Homo sapiens: one gene and its partners. The protein of the gene in region 1 purifies or fractionates together with the protein of each later gene. This does not show direct contact. Each region holds a gene or a part of one and is shown in the gene's direction. Other genes may lie near its edges.

Region 1 (8,023 bases):
ACATGTTTTTCAAAGAATAATTTGTAGTCTGTATCTTATGACTAAAGCAATTTCCTGTCATTTTAATGAAATGATATGTTTTTATTGTTTTTTGTTTTTTTTTTTTTTTTTTGAGATGGAGTCTCGCTCTGTCGCCCAGGCTAGAGTGCAGTGGCGCGATCTCAGCTCACCGCAAGACCCGCCTCCTGGGTTCACGCCATTCTCCTGCCTCAGCCTCCCGAGTAGCTGGGACTATAGGCGCCTGCCACCATGCCTGGCTAATTTTTTGTATTTTTAGTAGAGACAGGGGAAAGGATCTGTTAATGAGTTCTACATTGGAACAAACATGACCAAGCTTCAGTGTCATATAGTTAAGTTCCCACTGGGGCCTTAAAGTAAATTAGGGATGTCCTATCTCATTCTCCTCAGAGCAGTCAGGGGTAATAGGGACAAGAGAGGATTTTTATCAGAGAATAAGAGAATATTCAAACTGAAAGGGGACTCTGGGTGGGTATTTTGGGGACTGTGTGTCCTTACCTAGATTGATGGCTGTAGGTAATAGCTTCAGTTTTTGTATCTGACAAGAACTTAAGCGTGTGTCATAAGTTATCATTTTTTAACAAATAAAGACCTTTATTAAGTAATATCCATGCAGAAATTGCTTTGTTTTAACACAGATGTTATTTAAGATTTCTTGACAGCTAGTCATTAGTTTGAAGAATTTTATTTACAAACAGTTTTGGGTAATCTGATACTTTGGATAGATAAAAGAAAATTGGCCATATTTGTGGTTCAACAATAAAGTTACTTGGAAAGTATGGCTTCTGCTCTTAGGCAGGTACTTTAAGTCAGTCAGCTGTTTAATTTTGAAAAGTTCATGCTTCAAATGTTAAAATCTTAATTTAAAATACATGAATGTAAGAATTTGAATTTTAATCTTTTCATAAAACCATAGATGACACAATTTTATAAAATATGATTATTGAACCAAATGCATTAGAAAGCTAAGTAGCTATAGTCACCTCTTCAGGTAAGTAAGAAGTTAACTAGATTTCTTGAGAGAATTTACACATTATGTAGACTTAATAGCTCACCTCCAGAACTCCTGTTCTGATATTTTTTTTAAATTATTATCATTGGTTATATCATAGATCTGAAATTAATGCCAAAAACAATAAAAATAGCCACTGATTATTGATCATTTGCTGAATGCTACACACTTTAAAGATGTAATTTTGTATAGTCTTCACTGCCCTGTATGGTAAAGTGCCATTGATCTCATTTTACAGATGAGGAATCCCAGGTTCCAAAGGATTAATAAATTGCCCAGTATTACACACTTGTTAGCCAGAATTTAAAACCAAGTTTGACTTGTAAGGCCCTGCCTTTTCTTATCACGCATGCTAATGTCTTATTTGAATGGACTCACTGATTTTTACGCCTAGGGTCTTTTCCTTGGTCCTTTCAGCGATAAGGAAGACAAAATCCATTCTAGGTTTTTCCTGAATGGAACTTCTTTACGTTTAAGACATGGCTCACACCTGTAATCCCAGCACTTTAGGAGGCCAAGGTGGGCGGATCACTTGAGGTCAGAAGCTTGAGAGCAGCCTGGCCAACATGGTGAAACCTCATCTCTACTAAAATTACAAAATTAGCTGGGCACACACCTGTAGTCCCAGCTACTTGGGAGGCTGAGGCGGGAGAATTCCTTGAACTTGAGAGGTGGAGGTTGTGGTGAGCAGAGATAGTGCCACTGTACTCCAGCCTAGGTGACAGAGTGGGACTGTGTCTCAAAAAAAGAAAAAAGACATCACTCCAGTGTAATTAGGCAAATACTGTACTTATGTATCAAGTACATAAAAGCACTACCTTAGGCTCTGGAAGCTATTCCCAAATGTAACAGATCAATCACTGTCCCCTTTATAGGCAAGATGATATGCCACTGGAAGGTCTTATGGGGGAAATAACATTTCAGTTGGGCTGTAAAGAATGGATGGAATTTCAGTAGTAGTTGCCATTGTCAATAAAACAGCAAGTCAGAGCAGTAGAAAAATTCAGTGAAGAGAGAATGGCAAGTAGTCCAGTATATTAAATGTCATGAGGTTAAGTTGCCATAAAACTTTTATTTAACAAAATAATAAGCAGTATATATACTAGGTGTGCTGATTATATTTGCACACCTGCCATGTGCAGGGCACTATGGAGATAAAAAGATGAAGAATAAGTGAGGTCCCTGAAACTCACAGTCCAGCTGGGAGACATAGTACAACAAGTTGTAATATATAAGATTGACATAAATATAATAAAGGTATAAACAAAGCACTTTAACCTAGAATAAAACAGGACCTTGGACATTATTTTACTTCCCCTTTGTACTGCTCAAATTAGCATGTGCATTTTCTGATGTTTACCTGAATGTTATATATTCTATTATCTCTTCACCTTTGCTTATAATCCAACACTTGAATTTGTATTTGGAATCCCTTCAATAAATGGGATTCTCTTTACCAAAAAAGGCAGCTCAACCTTCTGTCCAACTATAACTCCTACCACATTACACAGTACTATAACTGGTACCACATTTACACAGTACCTATATTAAAAATCTAAAAGTCATCCATGACTTTCACCTTTCCTTTCTCCTCTCATCTCTGCGTACAACTCACACCTGCCAGGGAGTGCTAATAAATCTTGACTTTGAGTGTCTTTTAAACATATTCTCTCTTCCCAGTCCCTACGCTGGTACTTGAGTGCAGACCTACTGCTTTGAATTATTTTATTGGCCTCTCTGTTTCTAGTTATCACTGGCAATCCACTCTTCACAACACTATTAGAATTACCTGTTTTGTTTTATTTTATTTTATAATTTTATTTTAATTTTATTTAATTTTAATTTTAATTTTATTTTATTTTATTTTATTTTATTTTATTTGAGACAGGGTCTCATTCTGTTGCCCAGGCTAGAGTACAGTGGCATGATCTCGGCAGCCTAGATGTCCCAGGCTCAACTGATCCTCCCATCCCAGCATCTCAAGTGCCAGGACCACAGGTGCACACAACCACGCCTGTCTAATTTTTGTATTTTTTGTAGTGACAAGATTTCGCCACGTTGCCCAGGCTGGTCTCGAACTCCTGGGCTCAAGCAATCCGCCTACCTCAGCCTCCGAAAGTGCTGGTATTACAGGCATGAGCCACCGTGCCCAACCAGAATTATCTTTTCTAAACAATTATTTTCAGTATTCTAATAGGTTCCAGTTTTAAGCCTGATGAAGCCCAAACTCCTTAGCAAACATACCTACCTAAAGATACTCACCCTGTCTCCCTAAGCAGTGTTTTTAGGCACTGATAATGCAAAGGACTTAGGGAGCTCGGACTGGTGGGTCTCAATCAAATGTCACCTCCTCTTGTTATAATTGTTTATGTATCTTACCTTTCCCACCTCTCTGGAATATGTTTTCAGTGAGTAGTTCTGAAATGTATTCATTTCTGATATTCATCCCAAAATATTTAATGAAAACCTAAGTTCTCAGTTTTGTACCTATTAGCAAAATATAGATGTTTTTGAAATGAAAAAATATACCTGAAAATTATGGCAACTGTTTATTCCAGGAAGAAGTTTGGCTTTTGAGTCAACAAAAAAAGTAGATGTGCAACAAACATCTTATGCCCTTTGGACCTCATCAGCCCCAAGAGAGCTGTATATAACCATGGCCCATAATGTCAGGGAAACATCATTTTTAAAATGTTTTGTAGAGGACTCAATAACCTAAAGTTAAAGGTTGAGGTACAGTCACAATTTTTACCATAAAGTCATGGTAAAATATGCATGTTGGAGCCCTTTTGAGGTATGGAATTTAGGGAACTCTGTCAATGTAATTCTGAGCATATACACTGGGACTTTGCAGCTTGAATGCTGAATCTCCTGTTTTCTTTATACAATGTGGCTGTGTAGAACAGCTCCAAGAAATCCGTTATTATCTTCTCTGACTCCTCCTTGAGTGGTTTGAAGGGTCCCCCTCCCATTGCACCAGTCATTTAGAGATGAAGGCATGCATGCTTCCTCAAATCATTGCGACCTGCTGTCATAATGTCAGTTTCAGTGGTATGTGGTATTAGAATGATGGAAGAGTTTTATTCAGCATAGGATAGAGCAGGGGTCAGCAAACTACAGCCAGCCACCTATTTTTGAAAGCCTTGCAAGCTGTTTTTACATTTTTTATGTTTTACATTTTTTAATAGTTAAAAAAATTAGAATAAGAGTAATATTTAATAACATGAAAAGCTTATGAAATTAAATTTCAGTGTAAAAGGTTCATTGGAAGCCAAACATACCCATTCATTTACCTTTCTTGTATGGCTGCTTTTGTTCTGCAACAGTGGACTTGAGTCATTGCTGCAGAGACCCTCTGGTCCACAAAGCCAAAAATATTTACCATCTTGCTTGCCCTTCACAGAAAAACTTGCTGACCCTAGTATAGTACAGGATATGTTGGAAAGAAAAGAATAAATCTAGAACTGTGAGGAATGTTTCCAGAAAAACAAAGGTGGTGTCAGTGTAGTCATTGATATGAAAGGAGAGCCGTGGGAACTGCATTCTAGCACCTAAAGGAATGGGTGAGGAGCATGAGCAACAGATGAATAAGTATGGGGAAGAGGCCCCAGAATTTAGCAATGGCTGTTCTGTAACAGGGCTCCCACAGTTCACAGGTTAGCAATGTGTGTGAGTCCGTGTTTAATTTGCCCTGTTAAATTCTAACTTCTAGGTTTTGATCTTTCATTCTAGACTACTGACATAATTTTGAGTTCCAATTCTGTTTGCTGAATTAGCTGTCTTTCCATTTGGTCTTTAAAAATAGACTTTCAGGCTATGTAATAAGTAGTTTTTTACTTACTGCACAGTACTTTATTGCTTTGAATGTCAGGTGTGGCAACAGTAAACATTTGTGTGTGTGATATGTGTTTGAGGGCCGTTCTACTGAGTCATTTCTAATTTACCAGGAACATGTTTGCTGCCAATTATATGTTGAGACTTCATTTCAGACGAATTTTTTACAAATTAAACTTTCTCTTCTCTTGAAACTTCAGACATGTAGGTATGAAAATATCAAATTAATAACAATTGTTTTCTGTCTTAAAAGAATTCAGAGATCATTGGGAACCTTTTAAAACTTGATGGAGATGTTAGCCTAATGATTTTGTGGGATAAAATGAAAGGTATTAATTACTCTTTGAGGAATTCATTTATAGTTACTCTCTCCCATATCTGTAGAAGTCTTTCATATTTCTGTGAACAAAAGAACTTTTATCTGAATAAGGGTGCTGCTAGGTAGGTTGTTACCAAATTGAACAGCCATAGGGCTATGCTTAAGGATTTGTCATTCCACATTTATATTACTAATGATAAAAACATGGAGGACATGAAAATTATATTTGCAGTTAACAATAGCTGGGAAGGAAGAATTACTCAAAATTATGTCAGTAGTCTAGAATGCTAGATCAAAGCCTAGAAGTTAGAATTTAACAGGGCAGGCCAGGCATGGTGGCTCATGCCTACAATCCCAGCATTTTGGGAGGCCGAGGTGGGTGGATCACTTGAGGCCAGGAGTTCGAGACCAGCCTGGCAAACATGACGAAACCCCATCTGTACTAAAAAAAAAAAAAAAAAAAAATCAAAAAATTAGCTGGGCATGATGGTATGTGCTTGTAATTCCAGCTATTCAGGAGGCTGAGGCATGAGAATTGCTTGAACCCGAGAAGCGGAGGTTGCAGTGAGCCGAGATCGTGCCACTGCACTCCAGCCTGGGTGACAGAACGAGACTGTGTCTCAAAAACAACAACAAAAAAGAATTTAACAGGGCAATTAAAGCCTTGCACTTAATTTTTTAGAAAGCTTTTTAAAAAAATAGATTCAGGGGTACAAGTGCATTTGTGTCACATGGATATATTGGGTCATGGTGAAGTCTGGGCTTTTAGTGTGCTCATCACCTAAATAGCGTACATTGTACCCAATAGGTAGTATTTAATTCCTCACCCCCTTCCCACTCTCTTACTGTTTGGTCTGTTTTTCCACTCTATGCCTGTGTATCCATTTAGTTCCCACTTAAAAGTGAAAACAGGCAGTTTTTTACTTCCTGCTTGAGTCATCTCACTTAGGATAATGACATCCAGTTCCATCCATGTTACTGCACAAGACATCATTTTTATGGCTGTGTAGTAGTCCATGATACATATACACACCATATTTTTAGTCCAGTCATCCACTGATGGACACTTAGGTTGGTATCTTTGCTATTATGAATAGGGCTGTGATTAACATATGAGTGCAGGTGTCTTTTTCATACAATAATTTCTTTTCCTTTGGGCAGATACCCTGTAATGGGATAGCCAAGTCAAATGGTAGTTCTTTGAGAAATCTCTAAACTACTTTCCATAGTGGCTGAACTAATTTACATTTCCACCAGCAGTGTATAAGCGTTCCCTTTTCTTTGTATGTTCGCCAACATTTGTTGTTTTTTAACTTTTTACTAATAGCCATTCCAACTGCTGTAAAGCAGTACCTCATTGTGATTTTAATTTGCATTTCTCTGATGATTAGTGATGTTGAACATTTTTTAATGTGTTTGTTTGCTGCTCTTTTGAAAAAATGTCTGTTCATATAAAAAAAAAAAACAATGAGGTTGTTTTTTTTTCTCGTTTTTTGAGTTCCTTGTAGATTCTGGATATCATCCCTTTGTTGGAGGCATAGTTTGCAAATATTTTTTCCCATTCTGTAGGTTGTCTGTTTATGCTGTTGATTATTCCAAATTTTTTAGCAATCATTTTTAAAATATAGTATGAGGATACTGACTTGATAAAAATTCAAGGTGGAAAAAAATCTAGGTAGTTTATCAGCCCAATTTGAAATATGAAAACATGTCAAGTTTTTTAACAATCAATCTTAGGTTGTATTGTTCCAGGAGCAACAAAAATAATAATGATGTAATGCTTTGATCGATTATACCTGGATTAGTTGCTTCAGATTTGGTTGGCACATTTTCTGCTGAGCCATAATAGGGAGTCAACCTTATGGGGAGGTGGGCATGGTGGCATGTGCCTGTAATCCCAGCTATACAGGAGGCTGAGGTGGGAGGATCACTTGAGCCCGGAAGTCCAAGGCTGCATTGAGCTATGATGGTGCCACTGCACTCCAGCCTGGGCAACAGAGTGAGACCCTGTCTCTTAAAGGAAAAAAAAAAAACCCATGGGGATGGGGATTGATTGCAAATTGGGAAAGGGAAGAGGGAGTGGCAGCTAACAGATGGTGTTTGCTGTGTTCAGTATCTGATAGACTGCCATGTGGAAAAGAGAGTGAGGTCTGGTCTGTACTGCTCAGCAGAGGACCCTGACTGTAACCCTTCAACTGAAGTCAGGTTTAGGCTTGTAATGAAGACCTTATTAAGATAATATGTACCCAGTAGTGGAAAAGATTACCTCACAGTTTGAAATAAGACATTGGCATTTGGTGTTAGGTAAAATACTGTATGATTTCTAAGTTGTCTTTCAACCTAAGGATTCAGTGGATGTTTACGGGTGATGACTATCACAGCTTAATGATGTTTGTGTGATTAGTAATATTTATTGAGCACTTACTGTGTGGCAAGTACCATGCTAAGCAATTGAAATATATTATTCTTTAATTCTTAGAACCCTGTGAAGTAGATGCCATTTGTGTCCCTATTATACAGATTAGAAAAATGAGACTTAGGGCATGGAGGCTCATGCCTTTAATCCTAGCAGGATCACTTGAGGCCAGGAGTTCAATACTAGCCTGAGCAACATAGAGAGACCCAGTCTCTTAAAAAAAAAAAAAAAGAAAGAAAGAAAAGAAAAGAAAAATGAAACTAAAAGAGGTTAAATAAACCACCTAAGGTTACTGTCAAGTGCCACTTATAGGGTTCAAGCCCACATAGGTTTAATTCCAGAGCTCATACTTTTAATCAGTATGCTATACTGAGTCCCTGGTTTACCCACTTATTAGTGTAATGACAAATAGTAATGTATCAAT
Region 2 (8,023 bases), on another chromosome or scaffold:
CCGCCTTCCATCGCCGCCGCGGCGGTAATTCTGTCGGGCCCGCCCGCTGACGTCACCTGCTAGCCCCGCCTCCTCTAGGGTCCCGGGCCCCTGCGGCGGGGGCTGCCCCGGGGGGCAGTCAGTTGAGGCGGCGGGAGCTCGGCGGAGGGCGGGCCAGGTGACTGGTCCGGGCCATGCCGAGGAAGAAGCCATTCAGCGTGAAGCAGAAGAAGAAGCAGTTGCAGGACAAACGGGAGCGGAAGAGAGGTCAGTGCGGGAGCGGGAGGAGGGGGCGGGGCTCGGGCTTCCGCACATCTGGAAGGAGGGGTGTGCCCGCTGCACCTCTGGGGATCGTGGGAGGGGGTCGTGGGACCGCGTCAACCCTCGCGGCCTATCGCGGAGGGGATCCCCCACCCCCCCTACATCTGGAAGGGGTGGGGAAGGATGGAGAGTTGGGGGAGGGGAATCCCTCCAGCTAGCACGGGGCGCCGTCCCCACTGCTCCCTGAAGGAGTGACTCCCCCCACGCACATCCGGGAGGGTCCCAAATAGGGTGTCTGGGAGGACTGAACATCGGAAGAAGTTGAGTGGGATGAAAGGGAGTCAGGCCGATGGGGGAGAGGGTCTTATGGCCCCTGAGAGCTGGCCAGCACTGGCGTCACCGGCCCCTCCCCGCAGGGCTTCAAGATGGGCTGCGCTCCAGTTCCAACAGCCGCAGCGGGAGCCGGGAGCGGCGAGAGGAACAGACCGACACCTCGGACGGGGAGTCTGTGACCCATCATATCCGCAGGCTTAACCAGCAGCCTTCTCAGGGGCTGGGTCCACGAGGCTACGACCCAAATCGGTGAGGGTGGGAGGGGGCGCTGGTCCCGGCTTTCCCGCCTACCCGGAAGTCAGAGCTTTGGGGGAAAGCGGGCTGCTACTGGTGAAGACGGTGGGCCTGGGATGCCACAGTTCTCCGCTAGCCACTCGGCTCCCCACAGCGGGCCACAGTCTTCCTTTCCAGAGGGGCTGGAGAGAGTTGGGCTTTTAGAAGGAGAAGGCTGAGTATTGCCTGAAAGAAGGACTTGGGGGAAGTCTGACTTGAGAGAGGAGACTTGAACGACTCTGGAGAGAATGGTTTGCGAAGTTGATTGTACAAGAGGGGAGAAAATAGGAGTTTGTGGCCACAGGATTGCTCTGGATGTCTCGGTCCCTGTTCCCTTAGATACCGACTGCATTTTGAGAGAGACAGCAGGGAGGAGGTAGAGAGGAGAAAGAGAGCAGCCCGGGAGCAAGTTCTACAGCCGGTCAGTGCTGAGTTGTTGGAGCTGGACATCCGGGAGGTGTATCAGCCTGGCTCAGGTGAGTGAGAGCAAGACAGGCATTGGGCTGGGGAAGGAGTTTGGAAAGGTAAAAGCCGACTGTGAGGAAGGAGGGGTCTGGGATGTACTCTTGAATCCTGAAGATTTCCTCACACTTGGACTTTTTCCTGAATTCCCAGTTCTGGACTTTCCTCGACGTCCTCCTTGGAGCTATGAGATGTCCAAGGAGCAACTAATGAGCCAAGAGGAACGGAGCTTCCAAGACTATCTTGGGAAGATTCATGGGGCTTACTCCTCTGAGAAACTCAGCTACTTTGAGCACAATCTGGAGGTGACAGTGTACTCTAGGGACAGGAGTGGGGCATAGTGACCTATGGTCAAATTGGTTTGGGATCAGGCTGGAGAGGGACTCTGTTTTCAGTTTCTCTTCCTGATCCTGTCTTTTTAGACATGGAGGCAGCTGTGGCGGGTGTTAGAGATGTCTGACATCGTCCTGCTTATCACTGATATCCGACATCCAGTGAGTACTAGGGATAAGGGTGGGCAAGGAGGAGGGAGAAAGGTTTTTCAGGGGCAAAGGTCAGAGGCAAGAGTTGGGAGACAGAGAGGTATCTATCTTCCTGTCTTTCTAATCTCTACCTAGTGCTGATGTCCGCAGTTAGGAACTCAGTTTTTTATTCTCTTATAGCCTGTCATTCCTCCCTTGGCCAGCTCACTCTTCTCTTCAAAACAGCCATGTCCTGTCCTTTAGCTCATCACAGACCAATAGAAAATCCAAGTGTTGGAGCTCCAGGGATTCTATGAATGCAGCTGGGGACTTCCTCCTGCCCAGCCCAAAGATGCCCTTTCTTCCTTATCTCATTTCTCTAGCACTGCCACATCAGTTGCTACAGAACCCACCTGGAATGCTAGAGTAGTAGTTAAGGCTGTAGACTGCTGCTGGACTGCCCTGTGTGAATCCTAGCTCTGCAACTTCACTCTTGTCCTCCAGTGGGAGAAAGGGAGGTCTGTGAGGACCATTTAGGTTGGAGGTCCTTAATAATATGTACACACACATACTCACACGTACATCATGTGCACATCAATATACACAGGCATGTTTGCACACATGTTCACAGTCACATTAACACACAAACATGCACACATGTGCACGTACTTGCATGCATGCATATATGCACGTGTACACACTTACATAGTTGTGCACACACAAAAAAGCAGACTAATTTCTACCCTAACCCCCATCCCTGTTTCCGATCCCAGCCTTTACCTCAGTGTGCTAAGTGATGCTGTTTCCTTGTCTTGTTTTGGGTTCATTTCCATCTCTAATCATGACCTATAGGAAGCCCTCTGAGACTCAGAAGTATTACTAACCCCTGTTTTGTCTTTGTTTTTCAGTTTGTCTGGTTTATAGTTTTTAGCCCAGAGTCTGCTACCACCAGGGCCTTGTCTCTGAGCTACACCTGCTGAGTGGGGAGCTGGAGGCAGAGAACTCTGGGTTGACTTTCACTGCTCCATCCTCTTATCAACTCTGTCCTAGGTTGTGAATTTCCCGCCAGCACTTTATGAGTATGTGACTGGAGAACTTGGACTGGCCCTGGTGCTGGTTTTGAACAAGGTGGATCTGGCCCCGCCAGCTCTTGTGGTTGCCTGGAAGCATTATTTCCATCAACACTATCCCCAGCTCCACGTCGTCCTTTTCACCTCTTTTCCTCGGGACCCCCGCACCCCACAGGACCCTAGTAGTGGTGAGTGGGCAATGAGAGAGGGCAACTTGGGAGAGGTGAGTTGGCAGGGGACAAAGGGGAGAACAGAGAGGCTTATTGACAAGGGGGCACCTGGTCTTGGGCCTAAGGGTGGTGGGAGAGATGAGAGGCCTAAGCCCGTGTGCCCATCCTTTTGTGCCCTCTGATCTCAGTCTTGAAGAAGAGTCGGAGGCGGGGGAGAGGATGGACTCGGGCCCTGGGGCCAGAGCAGTTGCTGAGAGCCTGTGAAGCCATCACTGTGGGGAAAGGTATGTGGCCCTTAGAGGAGGGCTGTAGGAGGACATGGGGGAGACCAAAGATGCAGAATCATTTTGCTCACCTTTCCTGAAGCCAACCCCTCTATGGTGGATATGTGCAAGAGGCCAGGGGAAGGGACAGAATAAGGAGCAGACTGACTTGGTGGGACGAGAGGCAGCAGGTAGTCAGGAGCCTCAGTGGCTTGCTGCCTTTAGCCTTCCCAGTACTTTTCAGAAGCTCAGAGAAACGTGCGTGATTCCAGGGAGGGTAGGGTCAAATGACTTTTGGGAGATTCTCTGACCTGCTCTTATTTAGGTTGGCACTGTACAACTCCAGAGGGTGCCAGTTACATAATCTGTGCAGGGCACAGTATGTGCCATCATGCACAGCAGCCCTGGGGAGAACCTCTTTAATCTTCTCCTTCTTTGAGCAGTGGACTTGAGCAGCTGGCGGGAGAAGATTGCTCGGGATGTGGCTGGGGCCACCTGGGGTAATGGCTCTGGGGAGGAGGAGGAAGAGGAGGATGGCCCAGCAGTCCTGGTGGAGCAGCAGACTGATTCAGCAATGGAGCCAACTGGCCCAACCCAAGAGCGCTACAAGGATGGGGTGGTGACCATCGGCTGTGTGGGTAAGGAAGTGGCAGCTTGTGCGTGGTGGCCTCCAAGGAGGTACAGAGTTTTCATATTCGGAGAAGAGAGAGGGCGATCAGGTCTCATTAGGCCCCAGGGTGTCTGAGGGGTGATCTCTGCCAGTGGCGGTGGGCAAGGCAGAAGAGGCGTCTGCTGCAGTGGAAGGATCATGACAGCCTGAGTTAAATTCCACCTCTTCTCAGCTGTGAGGTCTTGAGTAAGTGATTTTGCTACTCTGAGTCTTAGTTACTTTGATTTTAAAAATAAGGACATTGATACCTGAGTAAAAGAATGGATGACGGCCATGTGTGAGGGCTCATGCCTATATAGTCCCAGCGCTTTGGGAGGCTGAGGTGGGAGGATTGCTTGAGACCAGGAGCTCAAGACTAGTCTGGGCAACATAGTGAAACCCCATCTTTACAAAAGATAAAGAAAACTAGCCAAGTGTGGTGGTATGTGCCTGTAGTCTCTGCTACTTCAGAGGCTGAGGCAGGAGGATCACTTGAGCCCAAGAGTTCAAGGCTGCAGTGAGCTATGATTGTGCCACTGCACTCCAGCCTGGCTGATAGAGACCCTGTCTTTAAAAAAAAAGAATGGATGTGAGGAATGATGGGAATAGTGTTAAGAGAGTGTAAGAATGCCTGACAAATAGTGATAACAATAATAACAATTATTATTGTTAAAACTCAGTATTTATATGGTGCTTACTATGTAACAGGCACTGTTTTAAGTGGTTTATATAAACCATTTGAATTGTAGTAATTAGTCTGTAGTACAGTGATTATCAAATCATAGTAGGAGCTCAGCAAGAATTAGTATTCTTCTAGGTTTTAACCCTTTAAGTTTGTTGCCAAGGAGAATCTCCTCTTAAGGGCTTTGTCTCAGCTCACAGTGGAGGAAAAAGGAATGTATGATTAGGACCCAGGGCCCGTCTTCATTTAGGGTGGGAGAGGTAAGAAGAGACCTTGGACAAGTTATGGTATCTGAGGTGATATTGGAACCAAAAAGGGCCCAACCCAGAATAAATTTGGGAGTGTGGAGTAGGTAGTTGGGTTCCTTGGAAGTGCCCTGACTTATCTCTGTGTCCTTTTTGTCTTTGGAAGAACCTGCCTTACTGCTGAGTGATTGCTCCTCTTTCCAGTCATTTCACCCGGCTGTCCCTTCCCTGACTTCTGATCCTAGTCTCCCTGTCACAAGGAGCCTCTGTTCCCTCTCTTAGCAGCCTCTGCTCTAGCTGATCTCTATTCCAGGTGGTGTGAGAGGGAGAGTGTTTGCTGTGGCACAGGCACCCCTGAGTTTGGATTTCCCTCCAGCTCTCATTCATTTACCCATTCAACAAATATGTACTGAACACTTAACCAGGTGCCAGATATTCTAGGGATGGGACATACTGCTGTGGAAATGGCAAAAAGGTCTGTAGATTCATGGAGCTTATTTTCTTGTGAGTAAATAGATTTTGTGATCCGAAATCATGTAGGGGCAGTGAAGGCAATAAAGCAATGAAAGGGGATAGAGAGTGACTGAGAGGAGAGGTGCTCAGGGAAAACCTCCCTGAGGAGAGAACTGGATGATGAGATGAAGTGAGCCATTCAGAACTGTGGGGAAAGGGTCTTGAGGAGGGAACGGGCTTGGAGATTCTAGGACCAGCAAGAGTGCCCAGGGGATTGGAGTATGGGAGCCAGGATAAAGTACTGGGGATGAGGTCAGCAAGATCACCAGGGCCCACATCATGTAGAGCCCTGAGGCTGTGACAGCCATTTTGGATTTTATTCCAAGTCTCATGAGAAGCCAAGGGTAGGTTTTGAACAGGGGAATGATAGGATCTGATTTTGTTTCTTATAAGTTTACCTCCTGAGTAGAGAATAAATGATGGGGGGTGGGCAAGAAAGGGAGCAGAGAGAGCAGTTGAGGCTATTTCAGTAATCTAGGAGAGAAATAAGAGTTGCTTAGAGTAGGATGCTGGAGCTGGAGGTGGTGAGACAGGGCCGGAAGCATGATATATTTTGAAGGTAGAGAAAATGAGATCGCTGATGGCTTGCAGTTGGCACGTGAAGGAAAGTGAGGATAAAGAAGGACTTCCAGGTTTTTGTCTTGAGCAACTGGAAATACTGAGATGGGAAGACTGGGGGAGAAGCAGATTTGAAGGCTTTGGGGAGGAGAGGGGAATCAGAAATGAAATTTCAGATTCTTTTTAAATATCCCTAGTGGAGATGTTGAATAGGCAGTGGGTAAGTAGTCAGCAGCTTAGGGGAGAGAAGAGGACGGAAATTTGAATTTGGGAAAGATTTAAATTTGGGGAACCATTGATGGATATAAGTGGTATTTAAAGCCACAGGATTAGGCTGGGCACAGTGGCTCATGCCTATAATCCCAGCCCTTTGGGAGGCTGAGGCAGGTGGATCACTTGAGGCCAGGAGTTTGAGACCAGCCTGGCCAACATGGTGAAACCCTGTCTCTACCAAAAAATACAGAAAATTAGCCGTGTGTGGTGGTGCGTGCCTGTAGTCCCAGATACTCAGGAGGGTGAGGCAGGAGAATTGCTTGAATCCTGGAGGCAGAGGTTACGGTGAGCCAAGATCATACCACTGCACTCCAGCCTGGGTGACAGAGCAAGACTTCGTCAAAAAAAAAAAAAAAAAAGCCATGGAATTGGATGAGATGTAGGAGAGAAAGGAAATAGTTGGAGAAGAGGAGGTCAAGGACTGAGCCTTAGGACAAGCCAGCATTTAGTTGGGCAAAGGACAGTGAGAAGGAGGAAAACCAAGGGAGCGTCCCAGAAGTCAAATGAAGAAGGTGTTTGAAGAGGAAAGGAGGAATCAGCTGTGTCAACTGTTGCTGACAGGCCAAATGAGAGAACAGAGAGCTGCTCAGCAGGCTTGGCAATGTGAAGATCCGTGGTTTCAGTGGGGTGGAGAAAGCCAAACTGGAGTAGGCCCATGAGAGAAGGTGCAACAACTTCACATAACATTGTGTGAAAAGAGTCTGACCCAATAGCATCCATACTGCACAATTTCAGTTCTATCAAGTTTGAAAGCTGCAAAATTAAGCTGCATTGTTGAGAGATACACAGGTCATAAACTAAAGAGAAATGTAAGGAGTTGATTTCCTTAAAAGGATAAAGCTTGCATGTATAGAGGGAGAGGATTATGATCAAGAAGGATGAGTGGCGGCCGGTATGGTGGCTCATCCCTGTAATCCTAGCACTTTGGGAGGCTGAGGCAGGCGCATTACTTGAGGTCAGGAGTTTGAGACCAGCCTGGCCAACATGGCAAAACCCTATCTCTACTAAAAATACAAAAAGTTAGCCAGGTGTGGAGCCGCACGCCTGTGGTCTCAGCTACTCAGGAGGTTGAGGCACGAGAATCGCTTGAACCTGGGAGGATGAGGTTGTAGTGAGCCAACATCGCACCACTGCACTCCAGCCCGGGTGAGGGAGTGAGACTCTGTCTCAAAAACAAAAACAAAAAAAACAAGGACAGATGGAACATGTTGTCACACATTGGGTGGTATGGGGTTCATCAGGCTGCACATGTATGTTCTGTGCATTTTTTTGTATGTTGTAGTTTACAGTTACAAAGAAGATAGCAGGAAGAAATGGTGAAAAAAGTAGGTAAGTCTTTTAAGGAGTTTTCCTGCAAAGCGGACAGAGAACTAGGTCTGGTGGTGGTCGTCAAAGGAGAACTTTTTTCTCCCTCCTTCCCTCCCTTCCTCCTAGATACTTGCATGTGTTGTAAAGAGTGAGCACAGTGGTACATCTTTTCTTAGCCACAGTCAGCTGCCCAGGAGCAGTGCTGAATGGGCAGAGCTGGATTTTACAGGGTTGGGATTTTGCCAGGTGAGTAAGATAGAGGGGAGAAGTGGGACCAGGGAGTTCCAGGTCTGTGAACGGGCCTGGCTGAGGAGCTGGATCATGAAATCTGAGTCAAGTAAGAAGGAAATTGAGGACACGAGTTGGGTATTGCATAGTGTTACTGTGTTAAGGTCAGGGGTCAAAGACTTACTGGCATGGAGTAACCAGAGTAAGTGAGCTGGAAAGATGAGTTGTCAGGGCAGAGAGGGGTGCTTGGAATTGAGGCTTTGGAGCTGTGAAGTGACAAGATGCAGGTATTACC
Region 3 (8,023 bases), on another chromosome or scaffold:
AATAGGTTCATGTGTTACTGTCTTTTTTTAGGTGTTAAGACATTATTTTCATATAGAGAAAATCTTGTCACTTTTGTAGCCTTATTTATAAATGATTATAGTGTCCTAGGTGAATATATTATATAAAACATCATCTTCCTCAAAGTAAAACTGGAGTATAGAGTCCTGTGAATAAGGCTGGTATAGTTAATTACCAGTTCTTTATTTTTACTACCTAAACACTAATTTAAAACTTTGCCTATATATAAGGGTATTTTAGAAAATGTTTGTCCTCTAGACTTGTGTGGGGCCACATGCCAATAAAAATTTTATGTAGCCTTTTTGGACTGTGGTTTTCTTAATCTAAATAAGGGATTTAGGGATTTCTAAAGTCTCTTCTCACTCCGAAGTCCAATAATTTTTCTCCACGGGTTAAGCAATTAAAGGACAGACGTAGTGGCTACATGTCTAGGTTGATCCAAGTAGGCTCCCCAGTAACTGAAGAGATACTGGGGCTGTGAGACTTAGCATCCAAGTCCTGATTTTTGGAGAAGGACTGTGGGGCCAGCATCTTGTTCATGCCTCGAAGTTGTAGGCATAGAGGCAGTTTATCCTCCTGGAGTTGTTGAGCTTCCTACTGTAATGGAGGTTGTTGTGAGTACATTTCTATCTTTTAGATTCTGAGGGAATTAGGTGTCATTAGAGATTATGTGTGTGTGTGTACAGGTAGGCTGTAACTAGAGTTTTGATTTTATTATACCAGGAAAGTCTGATGAGTTTCCATGAATGAGTTATATATACTATTCAGAGTTACCAATATTTGCTCTTTTTCTTTGCTTTTCTACAGTGCTAAGAATATCAAAATGCACCTCTTAAAGGCTATGATGCATAAGTATAGAGATGGAAGAAAGTGTGGACCTGTTACAGCAGATTAGATTTTCGGGCCTTTGGAAAGCCTTTTCACTGATAAGGATTCCTTAGTTTATCACGAGAGATTATAGAATGTTCTGTACACCTAGCTTTCCTCTCTTTCTCTGCTTCAGCTTCACACATTCTGGTGACATTGATGCTTAGCGTTCTCAACGTAAAGCTATGGGATTTCTTGCTTCTCTGCCTTTGTTTATGCTGGTCTTTCTGCCTGAAATCTCATCCTCATCTTCCTTGAATGACTGGTCATCTACCAAGACACAGTTTTCCTCTTGCCCCTGCAAGGGCATATTTATGAACTATATCAGTGGGTCTTCTTGGTTTCAATTTCTTGTTGGGGTTGGCCTATAGGAGGCATCAACAGAAGACCAAAGGGAGGGAGGTGAGTGATATTGGATATATTAGTCAAGTATTTATTGTGGTAATGCTGCTTAACAGCCCCCAAATTTTAGTGGCTTCTCACAGTTTACCATACTCATTTCTTGCTATGGGGCTGTGAGTTGTCTGTGGTTCCACTGATCTTGCCTGGGCTCCACTGGTCTACAGGCTTCAAGTTAGGTTTACATCTACTCAGTGTATTGTATTTTGGGACCTAGGGTGGAGGAGCAATGATGATAGGCGGCATGGACTTCCTATGGCAGAGGATGTAAATGCCAGGTGACCAGGCTAGACCACAAGTACATATTTAAAGCCTTTGCTTGAATCATATCTGTTAATTTTCTACTACGTAAAGCAAGTCATATGACCAAGCCCAGAGTCAGTAGGATGAGTAAGTGTGCTCTTCCTAAAAGGGAAGGTACTGTGGAATCCAATGGCAAAGAGCAAACGTCATGGATGGATGATTCTGCTATAGAGAGTACTTGGAAATGCTAATGCAGTCTACCACATTAGATTATTGCTTTCCCTGACACCTTTTCTGTTGGATTGCTGGTTGGCAGTGGTTGTGTTCCTCTGCTGAGGGCCACCACTCTTGTTTGGCAGCCTTCTTTTATAACCACAGTTCTTTGGGTTCTGATAACCATTCTTTCCCTTGCCACTCCAAGTCTAGGAATGGTAAGGGCCTCCTGCTGTGCTGGCTCCACCTGATGTGCTTCACTATCCCCTTGTGGGGTTCCTTGTTAGTACTGTCTCCACCTTTGTGAATAGTCACTTCATTACATCTCTGCAATGACCCCATTTAAATGTGCCATGTGTTTGCTGAGGGGGTTCTGGCCAATAGCCCTTTCTCCTTTGTTCTCTGTGGCTCCTTGTATTATACTTACTGTTTCTTTTACTACTCACTAGATTATGTTATTGTTTGTAGGTACGAGTCTTTTCCCTTGAGGCTTTTCAAGGCAGGACTTATTATGTGCAACCACAGTACCTAGCATGTTCCTGGCATATAGTAAATGTTTAATAAATAATTATTTATAATCCAATTAAGGGGAAAACTCTCCTTTTTTTCCCCCAAACAAAATCGAACATAGATTCTCAGATTGTAAAACAACTAAGCCTATTTGGTTTAAAGCAAAATTCTAGAGGAGCCAGAGGTCAGGAGCCCGATCCACCTAGCTTCTTGCTTATTCCCTGGCAGCGCTCTTTTAAGGAGCTCCTCTATCAGGCATCTTAGTGAACCCTGATTGAAGACTGCTGGTCTATGTGGTCTCACAACGTTCCTTCTAGTTCAGGGAGTCCCTTTTTGTATTATTAAAAATCTTGAATGACTGCTTGAGAACCAAAAAAATTCCATTATAGTTTGCCATTTGTCGTCAGAAAACATGGCCTAATTAAATATACTATTTCAATAAATGGCCTAAGGAATGCTTATGAATAAGAAAAGAATTAATATATTGAAGTACAGAGAAACTAGTTATTATACACTAATGCCTGTATTCAGTTCATCTATGTATCTGGTTTCGTGAGATGCTTTTAGAGTAGCGGTTCTCAAAACGTGGTCCCCAGGCCAGCTTGGCATCATGAGGGAACTTGTTAGAAATACACATTTTTGGTCTTGCCCAGACTAGAATCAGAAACTCTGGAGTAAGGGCTCAGCAGTCCATGTTTTAACAAGCCCTCCTGCTGCTTCAGATGCATGCTCAAAGTTGAGAACTACTGTAAGAGAGACAGCTGTTTGTGGTGTGTTTTTATAAGGGAACACTTTGAGTAACTTTCTTAGTTGTAATATCTCCTGCTTTTCACCAGAATGCAGTTTTCATTGCCCATTTTGGAGATCTCCACAGTGATTTAAGAGTTATTATCCTGCGTGTTAATGACCCATGAATCTCATACTTCATGGGATTGACATTTCTGAGCAACTTGTCTGGAATCCAGTGTACATTAGAGACTGACTACATTATGAACTCTTTAGATATTCTTGTAATAATTTCCTTCAATTTTGCTATTTTGCAAGGGGTATGTGGTGGCAGACATACAATTATCTATTCTTTGTTGGCAGGAATAAACTCTAGTGGAAACTGAGATACTATCACTATAGCCAGTAGAAAGAAGTTTGTACTACCAACAGTCTGGATATATGGATCTGGTTGTGACTTTGCTGTTAATTAACAAATGGCCTTGGGAAAATGGTATAACTTATTGAAAAGCCTTAGGGGATTATGTTATTTGTTGCTGTGGTTATTTTTTTTTTCCGCAGTAGCTTGGATTTCTAGTGTCAAGATGATTTCTGTCCCATTAATGAGATACCAACGATAAATGAAGTATGGACATATATTCTTTATTCACCTTTTATGATAAAGGCAAATATAGCAAGAAATCCCTCAGGTATAGCTAGCTTTGAATTGAGAAACATTTATGGGTTTTGAACCTCCAAGTTTATACCACTGAGAATGGTATAGGGGAGGCAGTTTGTTTTTGTAATAAAGATCTCAGGCTTTTGAGTTAGTCAGGCTTTGGGTTCAGATCCTGGCTTCATTGTTTACTAAATTGACCTTGACTTCTCTAGGCTTTAGTTGCCTTGTTTGTAAGTTGGAGTTAGTGTAGGGCTTGGAAGAGATGACATATTTACAGATTTTTAGCATGGATCCTGGTAGGTTGTAAGGGTTTAGTGAGTGGTAGCTTTATTTATTTATTTTTAGCTATTAAAGCGGTCCAGTCTAACACAGTATGACATTTATGTGAAACCAGGTTGGTGTTCCAGTTTTCATTGTAAAATGAATCAAGAAGGACCAGAACAATGCCTTGATTTATTTAAAAGTATAATCAGCCTGTAATTCCAGCACTTTGAGAGGCTGAGGTGGGTGGGAGGATTGCTTGAGCCCAGGAGTTCAAGAGCAGCCTGGGCAACATAAGGAGACCCAGTTTCTACAGAGAATTAAAAAAAAAAAAAAAGACTGGGCGCGGTGGCTCACGCCTGTAATCCCAGCACTTTGGGAGGCCGAGGCGGGTGGATCAGTTGAGGTCAGGAGTCCAAGACCAGCGTGGCCAACATGGCAAAACCCCGTCTCTACTAAAAAAATACAAAAATTAGCCAGGCATGGTGGCGGGCGCTTGTAATGCCAGCTACTCAGGAGGCTGAGTCAGAGAGAATTGCTTGAACCCGGGAGGGGAGGCGGAGGTTACAGTGAACCAAGATCACGCCACTGCACTCCAGCCTAGGCAACAGAACAAGAATCCATCCCCAAAAAAATAAAAAAATAGCCAGGCATAGTGGCATGAGCCTGTGGTTCCAGCCACTTGGGAGGCTGAGATGGGAGGATTGCCTGAACATGTGATTACGCCACTGCATTCCAGCCTGGGTGACAGAGCAAGACTCTGTCTCAAAAAGGAAAAAAAAAAAAAAGGATGATCAAAACTATGGCACTAAGAAATCATCCCTCCCATTTGTTTTTCTCAGACCTTGTTTAAAATTCTAGCTTATGATATGATGTCTTTACTTTAGGTGATGACGAACAGAGTGATTGGTTCTATGAAGGAGAATGTGTCCCAGGATTCACTGTCCCTAATCTTCTGCCCAAGTGGGCTCCTGATCATTGTTCTGAAGTAGAAAGAATGGATTCTGGATTGGATAAATTTTCAGATTCCACATTCCTTTTACCTTCTCGGCCAGCTCAAAGAGGTGAGTTCTGAGGAGACCAAGAACTTAATGCTTTTATGGTTCTCCTTGGGCAGAGCAATCACCCCCTAGCAAGCATACTCATGCCTTCAATCACACATTAACTATCTGAATTTTGGAGCTAGCTCAAGGATTTTCTAGAGGAGTCAAAGTAAGTCTCAAAGCTTAAGGTTCTCTCCATTCCTTCCTAAACTAATCCATGGAAACTCCTGGGACATATATATTATCAGGAGATTCCTTCAGCTTGCCATTGCCGTTTGTGCCAGATTTAGTGACAGCTGCTTATCCTGATGTGAAACTAAGAGGTTATTGAGTATCGGATTTTGGAAGAGAACAGATTTCAATAAGAACATTCACATACATATTCTTATTTTCAGTAAGAGTATTCACATATAATGGTGTTTTTAAAACGGATGCTTTTAAAATAATTTAAGTAGTTTTATTTTAATGACCCTATTGGGACTTTAACACAAATATGTTTCCTTTTCCCTTTGCTTTTTCTTCAATTATGATGTAGCAAAGTGGGTGGAAAGAACCTAGGACAGAGAGATGGAAATGTGGTGCTAATACTCTGATACTGTCTACCAAGCTCTGTGATAGTCACTGCATTTTCCTGGGATGACAGGGTCATCACTTACGATATGTGACATTGGACAAAACCATTTCTTTTAGCACTATAAATTTATGATTCTAGGGTTCCCAGTAACCCATAATCAACCAGTTAATCAGTTGCCAAGAGTTTGTTGAACATCTGTGGGTGATCAGAATCACACTACGAGATGTAAACTTGTATTATGTAGGATTTTGTCATGGTGAATTTTTGTTTGTCATGGTGAATTTTTGTCATGGCGAACCAGCAGTTGGTGCTTGGTAAAGACTAGCTGAGGCACACATTGCTTTATTGAACATTTTGATGAACATTTCTAAAAGTTTCTAATGGACCACTTAAAATATATACAAACAAGCAAGAATAGTGAGAAGAAACTTAAAATGGCCTATAATCTCATATCCAGAGACAATCTCATTAATAACATTTTGGTGTGGTTTCCTCCAGTTGTTCTTTCCTTGTGTAGAACACATGCAGCAGTGAGAAAAATTGGGTTATCCGACACGTGCTATTTTCCCCATTATGTCATGAATTAGAATGTTTTTGACGTACAAACTAACATTTAATTTTAAATTAAAAATTATTAATAGTACCTTATGTTTGTGTGGTGTTTTCAGTTTATAAAGTCCCTTCTGCTTGCTATTTCATTGGGTCTTCAAAACAGCCCAGTAAGGTAGGACTGAGTGATTATCCCTCTTTTATAGATGGAGGATGCCTAGGTCAAAGGTAAATGGCATGCCTGTGATCATACTGCTAGTGACAAAGACCTGGGAATAATAAATCCTTGGCAAATAGCTCTGTGATGCTAGTTTAAAGGTCAATCTATTAAGATCCTGGGGGTAAAGCCTTCAGTGTACTAGAAACATAGGATTGCATATGGATTTTCTGCATTCGGTATCTGAGGCCTTCCTTCTTTTTTTAGGGTACCATACTCGCTTGAATCGTCTACCTGGAGCTGCAGCTCGATGCCTCAGAAAGGGGCGAAGAAGGCTGGTTGGGAAGGTGATACCTCTCACAGTTAGCTTGGCTCAGTGGGGAGATAATATTCCCTATGGGAGTTGTGTATCCTATTAACAATCAGAGGTGCTACAGAACTCCCTGAAGTTAATGGAGCCAACTGGAATGTGTTGGGAGTTTACAAGAGTGAACATTATGTAGAATGTGAATGGATATACAAATAAAAGATGAAACGTAATTCATATAGAAGTACTGACAAAAAAAAAAAACACTGTCATTACAGTGTCTATTGCCTGTAAACCTACAAGCCTGAGCTGTGTCTTCTGTAACTTTTGATTAATGTTATGTTATTATTGTGTAAGTTAAAATACTCTTGGCTTCTTTATGACTCCTCTTGAATTCATGAATGCATCTTTGTTCTTTCCTAATTTTGGTCTTTCATCCTAGAATTCATTAAAAAAAAAAAACAAAACTGTTACTGAGTTTCAAGAGCCCCTCCTTGGCCATGAGGGAGAACTATCTGCTGTTTATTCAGTTCTGCCTTTGCCAGGGATGGTACTAGGGACTCAGCTCATTTAATCCTTCCAGCAACCTACAAGGGCAAGCACCTTCAGCAGATGAGGAAAACTTAGGTTCGAAGAAGTTAAGGAATGTCTGATGTTACCCAGATAGGAATGGTAGAATAGAGATTTGAACCCAGGTCTACTTTTATCTTTTTACATTTTTATTGAATTTTATTTTTTACTCTACTTTGAGATTGAGGAATAAATTAAGACAGGGCTCATCCTCAGTCAGAGAAGATGGTGGTGGGCAAAGAATAAGGAAGGGAGAGGCATTGAGAGCATTAATTTGTTTGTTCACTTGGTAAGCATTTAGAATGCCTGCTAGGTGGCACAATATGTGCCACAGTCTGGCTTCCCTTAAGGGGATACTGTTTTATAGTCTGACCAGGGAACAGTTTTCTGAAGTTTTAAGCATGCAAAAGAAATGAGACTGTTTATTTCCAGACGAGCCCAAGATTCTTATTTCTTTTTATCTTTAAATTCAAGTTCAAATCTTTTTTTTTTTTTTGAGATGGAATCTCGCTCTGTGACCTAGGCTGGAATGCAATGGTGCGATCTCGGCTCACTGTAACTTCCTGCCTTCCAGGTTCAAGCAATTCTCCTGCCTCAGCCTCCCAAGTAGCTGGGATTACAGGCGCCCCACCATGCCTGGCTAATTTTTTTGTATTTTTAGTACAGATGGGGTTTTACCATGTTGGCTAGGCTGGTCTCAAACCCCTGACCTCAGGTGATCCACCCGCCTCGGCCTCCCAAAGTTCTGGGATTACAGGCATGAGCCACCGTGCCCGGCCTCAAGTTCAAATCTTGAATTAGAAGACATTTGATTATTGGAAAACTGATACCTTTCAAATTACTCATTTTACAGACAAAACGCTGCTTTTTCTGTTTTGGGAGCTTATTGTTAACAGGGATAGCTAGCAGAATAGCAGTACATGGGGT
Region 4 (8,023 bases), on another chromosome or scaffold:
TCTCACAACAACAATTTATTGAGTGTTTACTGTGTGCCAGCAGTGCTCTAGTTGCAGGAACTATAGTGGTGAATAAGACCAACAAGGCCACCTGGTGCTTAAGGAGCTTAGACATTTAAACCTGAGGTTCGAGTTGGATTTCCAGGTGAGCATGCCAGGCTAGGGCAGCCTAACCAAAGTCATGATTATCAGTGCACTTGAATGGTTAAGTGGGGCCAGTGCCTTGAGTTTTCAAAAGGAATGGATAGGGCAGATGGAGATAGGGCCAAGTTGCAAAGGTACCTTATTAGTCCGCTAATGGGTTGGGAATTTTCTTCTTTTTGGAGGAAAGAATTCCAGGTAGAATGTGAAGAATGAGATAGGCATTCCTTTTATTTTTATTTATTTATTTTTTTTGAGACAGAGTCTCACTGCGATGCCCAGGCTGGAGTGCAATGGCACAATCTCCGCTCACTGCAATCTCCACCTTCTGGGTTCAAGTGATTCTCCTGCCTCAGCCTCCCGAGTAGTTGGGATTGCAGGCATGTGCCGTCATGCCAGGCTAATTTTTGTATTTGGTAGAGACAGGGTTTCACCATGTTGGCCAGGCTGGTCTCGAACTCCTGACCTCGGGTGATGCACCACCTCGGCCTCCCAAAGTGTTGGGATTATAGGCGGGAGCCACCATGCCTGGCCCTGACATAACTTTTTAAAGATTTTTCTGGGGCTACGTGCAGTGGCTCATGCCTGTAATCCCAGCACGTTGGGAGGCTGAGGCCGGTGGATTGCTTGAGCCCAGGAGACCAGCCTGGGCAACATGGCAGAACCGTCTCTACAGAAAAATTAAAAGATTATCTGGGTGTGGTGGCACACGCCTGTAGTCCCAGCTACTCAGGAGGCTGAAATGGGAGGAGCAGTTGAGCCCAGGGGTTTGTGGCTGCAGTGAGTGGTGATCATGCCACTGCCTGAGACTCTTTCTCAAAAAAAAAAAACAACAAAAATATTTTTCTTTATTATCCTTAAGTTGAGTGAATACAAATTTTTTTTGAGATGGAGTTTTGCCCTTTCACCCAGGCTGAACTGCAGTGTCAGGATATCTGCTCACAGCAACCTCTGCCTCCTGGGTTCAAGTGATTCTCCTGCCTCAGCCTCCCGAGTAGCTGGGATTACAGGCGCGTGCCACCACACCCAGCTAATTTTTTATATTTTTGGTAGAGACGAAGTTTCACCCTGTTGGCCAGGCTGGTCTTGAACTCCTGACCTCAAGTGATCGCCCACCTTGGCCTCCCAAAGTGCTAGGATTACAGAGGTGAGCCACTGAGCCCAGCCCAGTGAATATAAATTTTATTGGTTTTATTTATTTTAGTTTGGTTTATTTATTTTGATTTCTTGGTCATCAGATTAAATAAATCTGATAGTTATTTTTCTTTAGTTGTCAATTTCCAGTCTTGGTTTTGAGTTTGACTGTTGTCATGATACTCTTCTGAATCCTTTTAGCCTTTACCTGTACCTCTTTTCCTTACTTTTTCAGAACTCTTATGATTCCACTTAAAGAAGCAGTGTTTTTTACTTCTGTGTGGGCAGCTTCTCTCAGCAGAAGTGGGATTGATGTTCAGTCAGTCAGTTTTCACACTCAGCCTACAGGGCCTTGTAAAAGTAAGGAGCAGGAGCAGGGTGAAACTAAAAAGTAATCTTGCTTTTTTAAAGTTATCTTTTTTTTTTTTTTTTTGAGACGGAGTTTCGCTCTTGTTGCCCAGGCTGGAGTGCAATGGCGCCATCTCCGCTCACCGCAACCTCCGCCTCCTGGGTTCAAGCGATTCTCCTGCCTCAGCCTCCCGAGTAGCTGGGATTACAGTCATGTGCTGCCACGCCTGCCTAATTTTGTATTTCTAGTAGAGAAGGGGTTTCTCCATGTTAGTCAGGCTGGTCTCAAACTCCCGACCTCAGGTAATCTGCCCGCCTTGGCCTCCCAAAGTGCTGGGATTACAGGTGTGAGCCACTGCGCCCGGCCTAAAGTTCTCTTCTATATTCCTGAACTGCTAGGAGAGGAAACTATGTGATCTATGTGTTATACAGATTTATCGGAACATATTTGTAGCAGCTGATAATAGTAAATGTGATTTTAAAATACTTTAAAGTAGCCAATATAACTGAGATTTGATAAGTTGTTTGATTAGTTGTTAGGAATTTTGGCTTTAATTTACAGTGTTTTAAGTTTTGTTTCTGTTCTCTTTCATGTCTGTTCAAAATAAGGGACCTCATTCCTCTTTGCTCAGACTCTGCCACTTAATAGGTAGATGGTGTAAATTCCTAAATTATTAACTTGACTTTAAATAATTTTAAAACCTACCTAAATGAGTATTTTCTAGTTAAGTGACAATTAATCTAAAGTGGAAATCTATCAGCAGGGACTTAATGCATATGTGGTATTTATACCTGGTTAAATTAAAAACCCATTTACTGAGCATTTACATGCCAGGTGGTAATGGGCACATAAAATAAGCAGTTTGGGGCAGGGCACGGTGGCTCACGCCTGTAATCCCAGCACTTTGGGAGGCCGAGGCGGGCGGATCACCTGAAGTTCGGAGTTTGAGACCAGCCTGACCAACTTGGAGAAACACTGTCTCTACTAAAAATACAAAATTAGTTGGGCATGGTGGCGCATGCCTGTAATCCCAGCTACCCAGGAGGCTGAGGCAGGAGAATCTCTTGAACCTGGGAGGCAGCTGTGGTGAGCCAAGATTGTGCCATTGCACTCCAGCCTGGGCAACAAGAGGGAAACTCTGTCTCAAAAAAAAAAACAACAATAAAAACAAAACAAGCAAGCAGTCTCTGCCCACAGAACTCAACCTAGTGAACCAGATGATTTCTGAGTTTCCTTCCTGCTCTAAAATGTGGAGAAGAGAAAGTAGATTATAAGGGAAAAAAGTACTGCATAACAAAACAACTGTAGTATGGAACTAGTGTTTTCCCTTATAAATTCATTTTAAATAAGGTATTAGAAAATAGCATTTTTCTTGGTATCTCTAAGCTTTAAAAGGCTGGAAACTTAAATGTCGTTTTTTGGGCTGGGCATGGTAACTCACGCCTGTAATCCCAGCACTTTGGGAAGCCGAGGCAGGTGGATCACAAGATCAGGAGTTCGAAACCAGCCTAGCCAACATGATGAAACCGTGTCTCTACTAAAAATACAAAAATCAGATGGGTGTGGTGGTGCACGCCTGTAATCCCAGCTACTTGGGAGGCTGAGGCAGGAGAATTGCTTGAATCTGGGAGGTGAAAGTTGCAGTGAGCAGGGATCATGCCATTGCACTCCAGCTCTGGGCAACAGAGCAAGACTCCCTCTCGGGAGGTGGGGGGGGAAATGTCGTTTTTTTGTAATGCCAGTTCATTTACAAAATACATTTGCTTGTAATTCAAGTTCATGTATTAAGTTCTGATTGTTGTTCAGAGAGAAACAACATTAAATCTGTTAAAACTTAGAGCAGCCATTCCTAAGAATGTATATAACCTAGAATTGTGCCAGGCATGGTGGCTTATGCCTGTAATCCCAGCACTTTGGGAGGCTGAGGCGGCGGATCATGAGGTCAGGAGATCGAGACCATCCTGGCTAACGTGGTGAAACCCCGTCTCTACTAAAAATACAAAAAATTAGCCAGACGTGGTGGCGGGCACCTGTAGTCCCAGCTACTCGGGAGGTTTGAGGCAGGAGAATGGCATGAACCCAGGAGGAGGAGCTTGCAGTGAGCCAAGATCGCGCCACTGCACTCCAGCCTGGGCGACAGAGCGAGACTCCGTCTCAAAAAAAAACAAAAAACTAGAATTGTGCTTGGGTAGTCTAGAAATTAAGTTTATTTTGATTGATTGATTGATTGATTGAGATGGGGTCTTACTATGTTGGCCAGGCTGGTCTCCAACTCCTGGGCCCAAGTGATCCTCCCATTTCAGCCTCTCATAGTGCTGGGATTACAGATGTGAGCCACTGTGCCTGGCTGAAATTAAGTTTTTATTAGCATAATTAGCATTAGAGAAACAAGATACTGACCAAAGTGACCAGTAGAAGTTATTTTTTTACTGAGTTGACTAGTTTAAAAAAATGACCTTTACAATAATGTCTGGAGTCTGCATTTTGTTAGGTGCCTTATAATTAGAGAAAGGTATTGTCGGGGATAGGGAAGTTGGGTGTGGACTAAAATTTAAGGAAAACAGGATTGTTTTTCTTTCTGTATTAAGAACAAAAACTTCATGTGGTTAAAATTTTAAGCAGTATCCTGTCTGCCTTAGTTTTAACCTAGCATAGAATCATAGCTTGTTCTTAAATCAACAGTTTAGTGTCAAGGGTTTCTTACTATTTTTCTCTGCTGAAATCAACTAAGCACTTTGCAGTGAGCCTGAAGGTGTGTATAGTGGAGAGAATTTTGGCAGCTTTTATCTTGGGACCTCAGTTCCTGGCATGTGGTTATCCATCTTTATGTGAATTGTCTTCTGAAGGAGATAGAAAATGACCAGGGCAGAAATCTTGGAGAAAATTTAGAACCTTTGTTTTAGGGCCAGGCATGGTAGCTCACACCTGTAATCTCAGCACCTTGGGAGGCAGAGTTGGGAGGGTAGCTTGAGCCCAGGAGTTTTAGACCAGCCGGGGCAACAAAGTGAAACCCTGTCTCTATTAAAAAATTATTTTTAAAAATTAAAAGAACCTCTGTTTTAAATTATTCTTGATTTACACTGATGATGCTTTTGAGTACTTTAGAGAGTCATTAGCCACAGTGCTTTTTTTTTTTTTTTTTTTTTGCATTTGATAACTTCTTTGGCTTCTTACTTGATGCTAGTTTATTCACAGCCCTGGTGCAGGTCCAGGTACATGCCAGAAGTAGTAATATCTGCAATATGAAGTGATTTGAGCAGCCATTATCACCTTTGACCTATTTATAGAGTTTATATCAGTGGAGAAAAAGTTGGCTGGCAAGCAAGCAAAGCTGATCTCTGGTGGTTGCAATCTCACAATTTATATTTAAGTTCCGGGTAGGCCAAATTCAGTGCATTATGGACAGATCCATTCAGCTGTATTAATATTAGAGTTCCCTTTCTGTACTCTAACTTTTTAGCACTCCAGTTTCCCAGTCAGCTTCACTGTTGAAGGAAAGAAAACCGAAAAACTTACCACACTAAAAAAAAAAAGGAAGAGTTCCTTAATGTAATATGATAGTCAGTGTTCAGATTTCCCTCTTATCTCATAAATGTGTCAGATCAAGAGCCAAATAAGGTCTCTGCATTGTTTTGTAATCTGTAGGTTCCCCCTCCATTTCTTTTCCCTAGCAGATTATTAGTTACAAAAGAAGTTTTCCCAGTGTGGATTTAGCAGTTACATTCCTTTGGATTTCTGTGGTGGTGGTGGTAAACGTTTTTCTCTGACCCCTGGGTTTCTAGTTAATTGGTATTAGATTTAGAAGCTTGATCAGATTGTTTCTATAATATATATTCTTTCTCTTGCTTCTTTTGCAGGGGATGAGGGGAATACTTTATAGATGGTACTTGGATCAGTAGGTGCATAATATTTGGTTCCCTGTGATGTTAGTAGCTGTTGGTGATCGTTGCCCAGTTGTGTTAATTTGTTACTCATAATTCCTTACTCTGAATGGGGCATCCTCTCTCATCAGTCCTAGTTTGAGTCTTTTATGCTTGTTTATAGCTTCTTCAAACTTTTCTTTCTTTTGAGGATTAAGGGAAGGGATGAGTTGCTGTGGAGAAAAGGGCTCTTTCTACTATATTGTATTTCTGTAAGTGTTTTTTATTTTAGTCCTAATCTTTGGTTCTTGCATTGTCTGCATTGTCTATGCTGCAGCTTCTTGGTGGGAAAACTGACTCAAAATCCCAGCAAATAATTGAAAGAAGTCCTTCAAAACCAAATTTTTAAAAAAATTTTTTTCTGAGTTAGAGTCTTGCTCTGTCGCCCAGGCTGGAGTGCAGTGGCGCGATCTCAGCTCACTGCAACCTCCGTCTCCCGGGTTCAAGCGATTCTCCTGCCTCAGCCTCCTGAGTAGCTAGGATTACAGGTGTGTGCCACCATGCCTGGCTAATTTTTGTATTTTATTTTTGAGACGGAGCCTCACAGTGTCACCCGGGCTGGTGTGCAGTGGCATGATCTCAGCTACTTGCAACCTCTGCCTCCTGGGTTCAAGCGATTTTCCTGCCTCAGCCTCCTGAGTAGCTAGGATTACAGGTGCCTACCACCACGCTTGGCTAATTTTTGGTATTTTTAGTAGAGACGGGGTTTCACTAGGTTGGCCAGGCTGGTCTCGAACTCCTGACCTCGTGATCTGCCTGCCTTGGCCTCCCAAAGTGCTGGGATTACAGGTGTAAGCCACTGCGCCCAGCAGTTTTTGTATTTTTAATAGAGACGGGGTTTCAGCATGTTGGCTAGGCTGGTCTCGAATTCCTGACCTTGTGATCTGCCTGCCTCGGCCTCCCAAAGTGCTGGGATGACAGGCGTGAGCTACTGCGCCCGGCCTCGAAAACCAAAATTTATGGCCAGGTGTTGTGGCTCACACTTGTCATCTCAGCACTTTGGGAGGCCAAGGTGGGCAGATGGCTTAAATACAGGAGTTTGAGACCAGACTGGGTAACATAGTGAAACTCCGTCTCTCCTAAAAATACAAAAATTAGCCTGGCTTGGTGGCATGCGGCTGTAGTCCCAGCTACTCAGGAAGCTGAGGTGGGAGAATCACCTGAGCCTAGGAAGGTAAGGCTGCAATGAGCTGTGATTGTGCCACTACACTCCAGCCTGGGTGATAGAAGTGAGACCCTGTCTCTAACAACAACAACAACAACAACAAAGATTTAGGAAGATGAGTATTATGAATGCAATGGAGTCTCTTCATAGAATTGAATGTGTAAGGAGAGGGGCCTTCATTTGAATTTTAGTAAGATACTGCTTTCTACCTCATTTTGTGGTTATGTAGCCAAAGATACTTAGTTTCATAGTGCCTGATTCTTGCATATTTGCGTATACACACACAATCACTTTAAATGCAGTATTCTAAATGTAAGGAAACAGCTTTACTAGGCTATTAGCAGTTGAGTCAGTTTTTGTCTTAGGTTTTATGTAGAAAGAAAAGGGAAGTTACTCTGTGAGAAATCATGTTGATTCTATGTAATGGAATGTATTTTCATATACAAATGAATAGTACTTTTAAGCAAACAAGTTGTTTCATTAGTGGTCTTGGTTTAAAAGATTCAGTTGATCAATTCAACAAATATCAGATATTGATTATGTGTTAGGAACTGTGAGTGAACTGATACTGAACATGATCCCTGTTTTCATGGGAGATGCAACATAGAGGGCTGAGGGAGTAAGTAAAAACATTTAGGTGCATAATTTGTTTCTTTTCAGTTGTCTTTCTCATAGTGTGCTATTTATTCTCCTCCCTCATGTATAAAGTTAACTCTTAACTTCTTGGGCTTAAATTTCCTCTGATAGCTCTGTGTGTGCACATGTGCCACAGTCAGAAAAATCAGGTAATAATTGTTAGGTGTTAATTTTCTTGGATGATTACTAGTATTGTGATTGTCTTCCACCATTGTCATAGCTCTCTACTGTGCTAGCCAACTTGTCTAACTGAAATAACTTTTAAGTCTTTTTGTGACAATTGCTAAAGCCAGCAGGAAGTAGGTCCACAATAATGTTTGAAAGCCCTGCTTCATTCTAGTTTTATCTTCATGCATTGCAATTTGTCTCTTGTTTTCCAGTCTGCATATTCCCTATCCTCAATTCTTGTTTAAAAAACCAGGTAAGGCCGGGCGTGGTGGCTCATGCCTGTAATCCCAGTACTTTGTGAGGCCTAGGCGGGCAGATCACTTGAGGTCAGGAGTTTGAGACCAGCCTGGCCAACATGATGAAACCCCGACTCTACTAAAAATACAAAAATTAGCTGGGCTTGCTGGCTTACACTGGTAATCTCAGCTACTCAGGAGGCTGAGGAAGGAGAATCGCTTGAACCCAGGAGGTGGAGGTTTCTGTGAGCTGAGATCGTGCCACTGCACTGCA

What was found.
Region 2: the proteins of STK17A (region 1) and GNL1 purify together in Homo sapiens (affinity purification with mass spectrometry, with the first as the bait; one large-scale study listed by BioGRID). This does not show direct contact.
Region 3: the proteins of STK17A (region 1) and GPATCH2L purify together in Homo sapiens (affinity purification with mass spectrometry, with the first as the bait; one large-scale study listed by BioGRID). This does not show direct contact.
Region 4: the proteins of STK17A (region 1) and ARK2N purify together in Homo sapiens (affinity purification with mass spectrometry, with the first as the bait; one large-scale study listed by BioGRID). This does not show direct contact.

What each region holds. Positions count from the first base shown.
Region 1 is NC_000007.14:43,587,061-43,595,083, forward strand, and holds part of STK17A (serine/threonine-protein kinase 17A), read left to right. Parts: intron 1-8,023.
Region 2 is NC_000006.12:30,548,354-30,556,376, reverse strand, and holds part of GNL1 (guanine nucleotide-binding protein-like 1), read left to right. Parts: 5' UTR 1-173; coding exon 174-246; intron 247-656; coding exon 657-822; intron 823-1,185; coding exon 1,186-1,322; intron 1,323-1,461; coding exon 1,462-1,613; intron 1,614-1,730; coding exon 1,731-1,802; intron 1,803-2,819; coding exon 2,820-3,027; intron 3,028-3,197; coding exon 3,198-3,293; intron 3,294-3,715; coding exon 3,716-3,910; intron 3,911-8,023. UniProt on the Homo sapiens protein: Possible regulatory or functional link with the histocompatibility cluster.
Region 3 is NC_000014.9:76,167,060-76,175,082, forward strand, and holds part of GPATCH2L (G patch domain-containing protein 2-like), read left to right. Parts: exon of another isoform or gene 1-4,139; intron 4,140-4,783; coding exon 4,784-4,960; coding exon of another isoform or gene 4,961-4,971; exon of another isoform or gene 4,972-6,486; coding exon 6,487-6,566; exon of another isoform or gene 6,567-8,023.
Region 4 is NC_000018.10:46,177,935-46,185,957, forward strand, and holds part of ARK2N (protein ARK2N), read left to right. Parts: intron 1-8,023. UniProt on the Homo sapiens protein: AMPK substrate important for exercise capacity and skeletal muscle function.